2 separate regions of the Homo sapiens genome follow, and region 2 is linked to region 1. Evidence: fine-mapped expression QTL. A gene starts in region 1. The other region holds a variant in brackets. All regions are shown on one strand. Distances are from middle to middle.

Region 1 (5,389 bases):
TGCCTTCTGGCTTGAAAGATCCCATCTAGGTTGTCATGGCCAGGGGAGGAAAAGGGTAATGGTGCCTTTCATGGGCTATTCCTGGGTCTCGCGGGATAGAAAATTGCTTCCAGTTGCCCTGAAACAAGTGCTTCCTGTAATGAATCCCTCTGGAGTACTCCTTGACATCTCCCCAAACTCATAACAAAAGACCATCTTTCTCCTCATTCGCAGCTGCCAAGGCCCACCGTCAATACAACAGACTGAAAACCCGCCACAACTGTTGACATCCACGACCCTCCTGATCTGGCCTCATTAGCTCCACTTTTGAGCCACCAGCCAAGAGAGAGCTCTTAAATATGACTGGTGGAATAGTCCTGAAGTAGTATAATTTAGTCCAACAAAAAAATGAACTATGGGCCCAGATACTTTGAAAGTAACATAAATGGAGAAAGAAAAAATAAAAGCTCACAGGCCATATGTCAAAGACAAAACAGAAAAGGCTTTATACTAAAAAGTAAAAATAACAGAGATGTTAATTGCAACAATAAATGTACCGGGTAAAAATTTAAACTCAAACTACATAAAACTCAAAAGACATCCGAAACGAGAACTCCAAAACTAAATGTAAAAGAATTTTTAAAAAATACCAGGCAAACAAAAAATATTCAAGAGTTTAGTGAATTAAAATTATAATGAATTAAAAGCACAAATACATTAGAGGAAACTAAATGATTATAACTCATAATGAAATATAACTCATTAAATGTACAACATACTTGAAACATTTTTGGCAAAATTCTCAGAAAACAAGAAATGAAGTCAACAGTGATACAATAGAAATGGGATATTAGGTAACTTTCTCAGACTCTGACAGATAAAGTCAAAAAAGTAATAGTATAGTGGATATAAATAATATGCTTAGCCTAATAGATAAATAAAACTAGATAAAATGTAGTTTCTATTCAAGCACCTAAGGGAATGTTTACAAAAGCAATTTATTAGGCTACCAAATAGAAAATCCTTGATAAATGGTAAACAAGAGTAGTGGAAACCATATTTATTACTAGAATGCAAAACCAGAAATTAACACCACATAGAAAAAACAATTTCACCTACTTTAAAATTCAAATGTTTGCTTCTAAAAAAAAAGATAAAAGAGAATCAAAAGGACAACTGCAAAGTATCTAAAAACAGTAAAAACATTGTACGTCAAAATCTAAAGCGCACAGCTGAAGCTCCTGATAGGCAATGGAAAAGCCTTACATATAATTAAACAAGAATGAGATGCATTAAATATCCAACTCAGGAAATAAAAAAAAAGCAACAAATATACTGGGAGGTTTGTAGGTGAAAAACACAAATTAATGAATTACTCACTGTAAACAGTTACAGAGCTAGGACAGGGAGAGACGTTCAGGATGGCATGCTGCATTTAGGTAAGATTTCCGAGGTGGAATAGTTTTGATGATAGAGATCCAAGGTGTGACGTGACTGCAAGTAGCTTAAGTGGCAAATGATGAACACTGGAATATACAAAGCCAGGAAATATAACAGTTAAACTCTAAAGTACTGAATAGATGCCTCTGATATAAAGGTGGGATTCAGGATTAAGACACGGAGCCAGTACCACTGTGACGGAGGGACCTGAAGTTGTAGTGGATGGTTAGACTAATATAACCAGGTGGCACCAGTTCTACGGTTTTATGGCCGCAAGGAACTCGAACAGCTGCTAATTATGGAAAAAAGGTACTGTCTGTGAAGAGGGTTATTTCTAATCAAACAGGTTGTAGGTAGGACAGCTGCTTGAGGTAAGAACCACCTGGCGAGAGTAGCTTAGATAAAGAGGAACAGAAAACAGTTTGCAAATAAGTGACTGAATAGAAGTCATTTATGTTAAATGGAGAAAGAATTATTTTAAAATAAGTACGATACTTGGAGGTTTTAATCTTTTAGGGAGGTGGCCAGGAATGACTGGGAAAACAAGGCAATATGAATTAATTAAAACTCCATTGTCTTTCCCAGTTGATTGATCCAGTCACGCTTGGTTTTTCCATGAGGCATCAATACCAGCCATTCCCAAACCAGCTGATCATAACATACTAACCACTCTGCGCGTCTGGAGACTGCCCCTATTGCAGAGTGGAAGAGGCGACAGGAGTGTGGTTAAATCCTTGCTTTAGCGGAGCTGGATCCTGACCCCAGCCGTCCCGCCGCCCACCCCCTCGCCCTCTGTCGCTGCTCTCAACGCTTGTCTTACTTCCGCAGCCCACGTTTCCATCCCTCCCGTCAGCTCGCGCCCTCCTCCAGGTTTTCCGGCACAGACCTTGGAGGGCAGCGTGGAAACTGGGTAACTGCAAGCAAGCTGAGGTAAGCTGCACGTTCCGCATGGACGCCCTCAAGCGTGATTCCCAATTCCAAGACCCCGCGTCCCCACCGCCCGCTGACGAGAACGATACCCGTGAGCACCGCTCCTCTCCAGTGGCCCGTTCAGTCACTCACAAGCGCCAGTTCTCAGAGGAGCCGCGGAATCGCTGTCTTGGACAGTGAAGGGAGCTGGCGTTGGTAATCACGCTGCAACTAGGAATCCCTGACCTCGCCGAACCCTCAACTCACTGCCGGCTCCGAGTTTCATAAATTGCCGCGGAACAACCTCGACGCACTCTTGCGCACGCGCACCAGCTGTGGAAGGAACCCCCTAGGAGCCCCCGCGACCCGGATCGGTGAGGTAGACCAGGCCTTTGCCAGCCCCGTCCCTTTCTGCAGGCCCCGTCCCTTTCTGCAGGCCCCGCCCACGCCGCACACTTGGAACTCTGGCCCTGTGAATGGACTCACGGTGAGCTTCTAGTGGCTTAAAGAAATGAGCGTCATACTTCCGGCGCTGCCTCATCCCGTCCGGGGAAACTAGTCCAAATCGCCTTTCTGTTCCCCACACCCCATTTGTCTGGAATCAAAAAACAATGACAATTTCGACAAGACATTGTCTCTTACATGGTCTTTATTGGTTTATTGGTTCACAGATTCATTCATTCAGTTTTGTATGGAAGTGAGAGGGCTTGCAGTTCGTTGTTCAGTTTTGGCTTGTTAAGACTGAGGTACTTTGTGGCATCTGAGAAGCATTGTCAATTAGGCATTTGGATGTAGGCATTTGGGAATTTAGAGATGTCTGGGGCTAGACCTGTAAAATTTGGGTCAATCTGGGTAGATGGTGATTGATGCTATCCATTGGAATAGGACTGCAGAGAAAGGGACAGAGAGGAAGAGAGAAAATAGAAGGAAATGGGCTGGAATTGGCCCAGGGAACACCAACACCATTGGTTGAGTCAGGAAGGCGGACCTGCAAAAAAGAGAGAGGAGGATCAGCCTGAGAGGTAGGAGGAAATCTGGTGGGTGTGGAGACACAGAGGGAAGGGATGTGTGTGTCACAAAGGAGAGAATGCTTGGTGGCATTAAGTACATGATAATATGATTAGTGCTTGCCTAGAGGCATGTGGACAGTGCTGTAGGAGCAGAGTGAAAGAACTTAAACCAGAGAGAGCTTTATATCTAGGCCAGGAGTGGACTAAGGTAAAACAAGATGGCAACTTTGAACAGCTAGTGACACAAAAAAACAAGGACACACCATATAGTTTCTTTTATTTCTTTTTAAATAGACCTTATTTTTTAGAGCAGTTTTGGATTTACAGTTTTGGAAAAATTGAGAAGGTAATATACAGAGTTACCTTCTACTCCACAACTAGTTTTCCCTGTTATTACCCTCTTAAATTATTATGGTATATTTGTTACAACTAAGAAAATAAAAATAAAATATAAAAATAAAAAATAAAATAACATTGATACATTAAGTCCACAATACTTTATTCAGATTTCTTATTTTCTTTGCTTTTTTCTTTTCTTTTCTTTCTTTCTCTTTCTTTCTTTCCTTTCTTTCTTCTTTCTTTCTTTCTTTCTTTCTTTTTCTCTCTTGCTTGCTTGCTTCTTTTCTTTCTTTCTTCTTTTTTTGACTGGGTCTCACTCTGTCACCCAGGCTGCCAGGCTGGAGTACAGTGGTGTGACAGCTCACTGCAGCCTGGACCTCCCTGAGCTCAAGTGATTCTCCCATCTCAGCCTCCCAAGTAGCTGGAACTACAGGTGCTTGCCACCATGCCTGGCTAATTTTTTTTTAAATTTATTTTTTGTAGAGATGGATTTTTGCCATGTTGTCCAGGCTGGTAAGGACCAGACTTCTTTAGCTGGTTTATTTGTTTTGTTTTTATCTTTTTTCTTTCCTCTGATGCAGGATCCCAACTGGAATATCACATTACATTTAGTTGTCATGTCTCTTTAGGCTCTTCTGGACTGTGACGATTTCTCATACTTTCCTTGTGTTTCCTAACCTTGGCAGTGTTGAGGAGTACTGGTCAAGTATTTTGTATGATCTCCCTCTATTGGGAGTTTTCTGATATTTTTCCTATGATTAGACTGGAGATGAAGGTCACAGAGATAGAGTGCCATTTTTATTATATCATATCACAGGTACATACTATCAACATGACTTATCATTGTTGGTGTTCAATTTGATCGCCTGACTCAGGTTGTGTTTGTCAGAAGACATTTTTTTTCTTTCCAACAGTGGCAATGGATGCAGCAATATTCAGTTTCCAGAATCAGCAGCTCCGGCAGCAGTGTCCTGTGCTGATGGTGTTGGCAGGTAAATCATGCTTCTAGTGCTGAATGGAAGTCTTGTCCTCATAGAGCCAATTCTGTGGTACAATTTTGGTCTGTGGTTCTGGCTACATGACTCGAATACTATTTCAATATTTTTACGTTTAGCTTAAATCATGCTTAGTTTCTGTTGCTTGAAACTAAAAGCCCTGACTGATACGTCATCATTATGATGATTTCTAGGTGTATGTATTAAGTATGTTTTCATTAGAATTTTTTGTCTTTATTTTCCCCTTCCCTCCCTAGTATGTAGTGGTTTCATGCAGACAGCTTTGTGAAGAAGCCCCATTGGCATCTATTTTGGTGGAATGAGTGGGAACATAATTCTCAGTGTGTCAGTAATCCATTGCTGCATACAGACCATTTCAAACTTTAGTGCTTTAAAATAGCAATCATTTTGTTTTACTCAGGAGTGTGTTTGAAATTTGGTCAGATGGGATGGCAGTTATCATTAACACCAATATTTAAGATATGACCATGGGAATGAGTAGCTGTAATCATTGGAGAAGCGAGGATTAAGGAATCTCAGAATGCAAACTATTTGAATATTTCATTCTATGGGAAAATTAAAATAACCAACAACTATAACACAGGAGCAGTATCTTCAGGAGAGTGGCAGTGAGTCAGGGGCTAGAATCTGCAAGGAATGGGTGGGGGAGTAGCCTAAGCATCTAAAATAAAATAAAATGAATAAAACCCCCAGAAT
Region 2 (5,389 bases), 72 kb before region 1:
TTTCCACAAGAGAAATCAACCTGGAGAAAACCTCTGTCAATGCTCCATCTGTAAAGCATGCTTCTCTCAGAGATCAGACTTGTATAGACATCCAAGAAACCACATAGGTAAGAAGCTGTACGGATGTGATGAAGTTGACGGTAACTTTCATCAGAGCTCCGGAGTTCACTTTCATCAGAGAGTTCACATAGGGGAGGTACCTTATAGCTGTAATGCATGTGGTAAGAGCTTCAGCCAGATCTCTAGTCTTCACAATCATCAAAGAGTCCACACAGAAGAGAAATTCTATAAAATTGAGTGTGATAAAGACCTCAGTAGAAATTCATTACTTCACATTCACCAGAGACTTCACATAGGAGAGAAGCCTTTTAAATGTAATCAGTGTGGTAAGAGTTTTAATCGGAGTTCAGTACTTCATGTTCATCAGAGAGTCCACACAGGAGAAAAACCATATAAGTGTGATGAGTGTGGTAAGGGTTTCAGCCAGAGCTCAAATCTTCGAATTCATCAGTTAGTACACACAGGAGAGAAGTCTTATAAATGTGAAGACTGTGGTAAAGGCTTTACCCAGCGCTCAAATCTTCAAATTCATCAGAGAGTGCATACAGGAGAGAAACCTTATAAATGTGATGACTGTGGAAAGGACTTTAGTCACAGCTCAGATCTTCGCATTCATCAGAGAGTCCATACAGGGGAGAAACCCTATACTTGTCCTGAATGTGGGAAGGGCTTCAGTAAGAGTTCAAAGCTTCACACTCATCAAAGAGTACATACTGGAGAGAAACCCTACAAATGTGAAGAGTGTGGCAAGGGATTCAGTCAGCGTTCACATCTTCTCATTCATCAGAGAGTCCATACAGGAGAAAAGCCCTATAAATGTCATGATTGTGGAAAGGGTTTTAGTCACAGTTCTAATCTTCACATTCATCAGAGGGTCCATACAGGAGAGAAGCCTTATCAATGTGCTAAGTGTGGTAAAGGTTTCAGTCATAGCTCAGCTCTTCGAATTCATCAAAGAGTCCATGCAGGAGAGAAACCTTACAAATGCCGTGAATATTATAAGGGATTTGATCATAATTCACATCTTCACAATAATCATAGAAGAGGAAACTTATAAATATTGTTCATTTAGTTAACAGCTTTAATCAAAGTTTACCTAACCTTTAAACCCTATAAATCCTGCTGTTAAGGAAATCTTATAAATAACACAAGTAATCCCAAGCAACATTTATAGTTTCCCCTATCTCCCACTAAGAATTATTTGCTTCAAAAGGAGATCTTTAGAAAAAACCCTATATATTTAAAATTATAGTGTATTTTTCTTTACCTACTATAAATATAATACAGTCATAAATATATTAAACATTTAAGGAGAAAACTCTTCATTCTATTTCATTCTAGTCTTTTTTTCTGTGCATTTTAATGTGCATGAAATTGTGTGTTCAATTTTGTATTTTCACTGTCTTCAAAATATTTACTTAAATTTTGGTTTGAATTGAAACTGGTTGGCCAACTGTTAAACGACATCTCTTAACTCCCCTAAAAACTCCCTAGGAAGTAACAGAAAAGATGGAAACACATAGAACTTAAAACTCAGTTTTGGCCGGTAGAATTCAATTGTTTATGGACAAAAGCCACCTAATAAAAGATAGGAAAGCATTGTATGACATTGTGTCTGAGACAGTGTATCTGAGTTGTTATCTCTGTCAACCAGAAAACCCAGGGACCATCCTTCTGTTGCAGGGGTGCTTCACTTTGAGGTGACTACAGTGCACTCATCCCTTCCCTTTCCGGTTTTCCACGCTTAATAATAGGTTCAGATACCAAACAACAAGAAGTACAGAATTTTCTCTAAGGTGTGAAGGGTATGGACAAAAGTGCTAGAAATGGAAGATACTCCATTGGTTCGGAATTAGAGATCCAAGCAGTAGAATTTTATTTAATCTCAGTAGAACAGAGTGGTAATAGAGAAATATCTGCAAGGACAGCATTGAACTCAGAACTCTGTGCAACGATGAACCCTGAAGCTAATTATGTAAAAAGAGAGTTTGGCCATTATCTCAGAATAGAGTTAGTCGGAATACAC[A/C]GTCTTAATTATTGATACACAAATATGCTGAAGTAATACCAAGAGAAAAAAAAGTGGACATGTTTAGGAAAATTAGAGGGAATTGCAATACTGAAGAAAAGAATATCATCCTAAAGACCTGGAAACTTATTGCCCTGAAAATTAGCTGCTGCAGGCTTCAGAGGAAATTTCCAGAAATGTTGGTGTCCTTAGTGGCATAACAGAGAATCTGAACTCAGTAAAGATAGAGTAGAAATATACAAGTAGAGAAGAGTATCTAAAGTGAAAAGAGAAATAGATACAACAAAGAAGGACTTCAGGGAGCTCTGAAATACTGTATCAAAATAAATGCAATAAAAAGTAACACTGAAGAATATAAAATAATTGATAGTTAATAGATAAACTTGATCTGATCTTAAATGTATCTGAAAAGGATAATGAGATGGAAACTAAGAAAGAACAGATATGAATATCAGAGGATGGAGGTCCAGTGTGAGAATTAAAGGTGTCTCTAAGGAAGGTGAAAGAACATTTGGCATAGAATCAATGATCAAAGACATTAAGAAACTTTCTCTGAGTTAAAAGTATATGGTCACTAAGTTTTAGGCAAAACCAGTATTAAAGCAACCTTAGAAACAGGTTAGAAAGAAGCAATTAAAAGCATGCAGAAAGAAAAATTCTGGTTATCTGCAAAACCAGAAAGGGAGGGTGGATACAGAGCTCTGCAACAGTAACTCAGAAGGCAATGGAGCAGCACGTTCAGAATTTTGAGATTTGAAAAGTTTATTATCACCAGTTTTATAACAAAAGTGTCTTTCATATGTGCAGGAAACAAATATTTTTGATAAGCAAGAAAACAGTGTAGCGTATATGTGCCTTAAAGAGAGTTTGTGAATGTGGAAATCATGGTATAAAAGGACTAGTGATAAGCACTGAAATCAATTAGATATGCAGTTGTCTGGATAGTTTCCAAAACTTCAAAAAATTAAATGTGCAATAAAAATATACAAATGCTGAGTGTAAAGTGTACAAATGCTGAGTCTGGGTAGGAGAGTAAGGTTGTCAGGACACCCAGTTAAGTTTGAATTTCATATAAGCAAAGAATAATTGTTTTAGTATAAGGGTGTCCCAAATATTGCATGGGACTTACACTAAAATTTCATACATTTGAAATTCAAATTTAACTGGTCATTTCTGTTTTTAGTTGCTACATCCGGCAACTGGAGAGAGACCATAAGTGCCACATTTCTGATCTTAAATAGCAGGGACTCATAATAACATTTTCTTTTTGAATGACAATTTAAGAAAGGCCTTTTTTTTTTTTTTTTACAAACCTAAAATTACAACTTAATAAAACTAAAAAAAGTGCATATACCTTTCAAAATGGGAGAAGATAAAAGCAAAAATTATTCAGTCTCTGTAGCAATGACTACCAAAAAAATCCCCAAGAAGTTGGCCTAAAATATTAAAATAAACGGATCAAGATGATTAAAGCCAAATGTATCAAAACACGTTCAATGCTTCATTTTAAAATGTTGAAAACACTGGGTTAAAAATTTCTAATTATGTGCTATAACAGATGAAAATGTGATATTGCTTAAATGTGAGACCAGGTGAAGGTTTATTAGACAAACATAAAGGAGTACCTACAATATGTTTTTAAAGGTGAAAAGTGCACTAATTTAAACTCATTAAGTTGGGCAAAAATACAAAATCATTAGTTTTCTAAATTCTTGGAATATTCAGGAAATGTAATTGTCAAAAAATCTGGTTTTTAATTTACAAAAATGCAGAATGAAAATAATAAAAAACGGGGAAATATAAAAGAGGACTTGACTAGAGGAGTCTTAATTTTCCTTAAGGGAATGTTCCTAATTTATATATTTGTTTCAGATCTCATGAAAATCCCAATGAATTTGAGATAAAGATGTTCTAGTCTTTTAAGGAAAATAGACATTGGAGAAGAGCAAAGATAATTGTAAGAAAGATTAATGATATTGCCCTAACATATAATAAATTGTATATTGGTATATGAAGTTGTAATAATGGAGAATTTAATTGTATATTTGAAAAAAAAAGTTAGGATTCTAAGTCACTAAATAGCTTAGAAATATACCAGTGTATGGATTATATATGTGTATTTGAACATACAGTGCATATGCTTATAGAGTTCACACATGATAAAGATCTGCGAATAGGAGGATTATTCAGTAAATTGTGCTGAGATCATTATTTAACTCTTTAATAAAAAAGACTTTCATTTCATGACCTATATCAGAATAAAACATTGATTGAATACAGGTTTTCAAGCTGTGTTCCATGGACCTCCATGTGGTTTCATGAAGACTAGTATCTTCAGAAGCAAAAGAACTGCAAGTGTAGCCACATTTTATCTCTTCATATGCAAAAATGACTTGATTTTGTTTTTTTAAAGGAGGTTCCACTATAAAATATTTAAAATTCTCTAGAGGGATTTTTAAACACTCAGAAAAAATACACAATTTGACCACATAAAAATTTTTAAACTGGGTGAAAAACATATAAGTCAGACAAAAATAGGAGAAATATTTGCCATGATTGTGACAGTACAAACTCTTTTTAATTAAATGGACACCTAATTTAAAATTTTGACGAAGAACATAAACAGATTAAAGCAAAGCAGTATCACTTTTATTAACAAAAATGACAATAGCCATTTTCAGCAAGAGTATGGAGTGATGTATACTTATGCTTATGTTGAGGGTAAATTGATAACGACTTTTTGGAAAAACAATTTGGCCAATCCTGAGCCTTAAAATTGCTGTTACTCTTTGCTACAGTAATTCTACAGGAATATGTTCTATGGAAATAGAGTTTCATACTATTAGGGGGCTTGTAAAGAACAGGGTTATGTAACATCATATGGTAGAAGCTCATATGCACATACTCAGATCCCAGGATGTTATCTCACTAAAACAAGTGAGGGAGCAAGTGAGCCATGGAGCTCTCCATGGAAAAAGAATTCTGTGTAGAGGGTAGAGCAAGTGCAAAGGGTCTGAGGCTAGGAATGGACCTGGAATGTACTGCAGCACTGTAAGGGAGGAGGAAAACAGAGGGAAATTAAAGGTAATAGGGCCTTGTAAGTAATTGTAAAGGCTTTGTCTTTTATTCTAAGTGAAGTAAAAAGCCACTGGAGGGTTTTAAGTGATCTAACAAATTTAAACAGGCTTATTCTGAATGCTGTGTTAAGAACTGACAAAGTAGAGGCTAGAGCCAAAGCAGGGATTCCAATTAGGAGGTATTGCAGTTACCCCTAAAAGAGATAAGGTGTTAACATAGTGTTAA

The links. PIP is the estimated chance that this variant, and not a neighbour inherited with it, causes the effect.
Region 2: its variant is the best candidate, but not a certain one, in a credible set for the expression of ZNF215 in tibial nerve (GTEx, PIP 0.50).

What each region holds. Positions count from the first base shown.
Region 1 is chr11:6,923,778-6,929,166 of GRCh38, reverse strand. It overlaps ZNF215 (zinc finger protein 215), which reads right to left and starts at 2,741. Exons shown (of 7, transcript NM_013250.4): 1 at 2,482-2,741; 2 at 1,360-1,505. It overlaps LOC107984019 (a long non-coding RNA gene), which reads left to right. Exons shown (of 4, transcript XR_001748112.3): 2 at 2,005-3,350; 3 at 4,592-4,669.
Region 2 is chr11:6,995,590-7,000,978 of GRCh38, reverse strand. ZNF214 (zinc finger protein 214) reads left to right here. Exons shown (of 3, transcript NM_013249.4): 3 at 1-3,894. The coding sequence ends at 1,117. Among named protein-coding and RNA genes, the nearest start is that of ZNF214, 22 kb to the left of the region's middle. The variant A/C (reference allele first, on the strand shown) is at 2,087.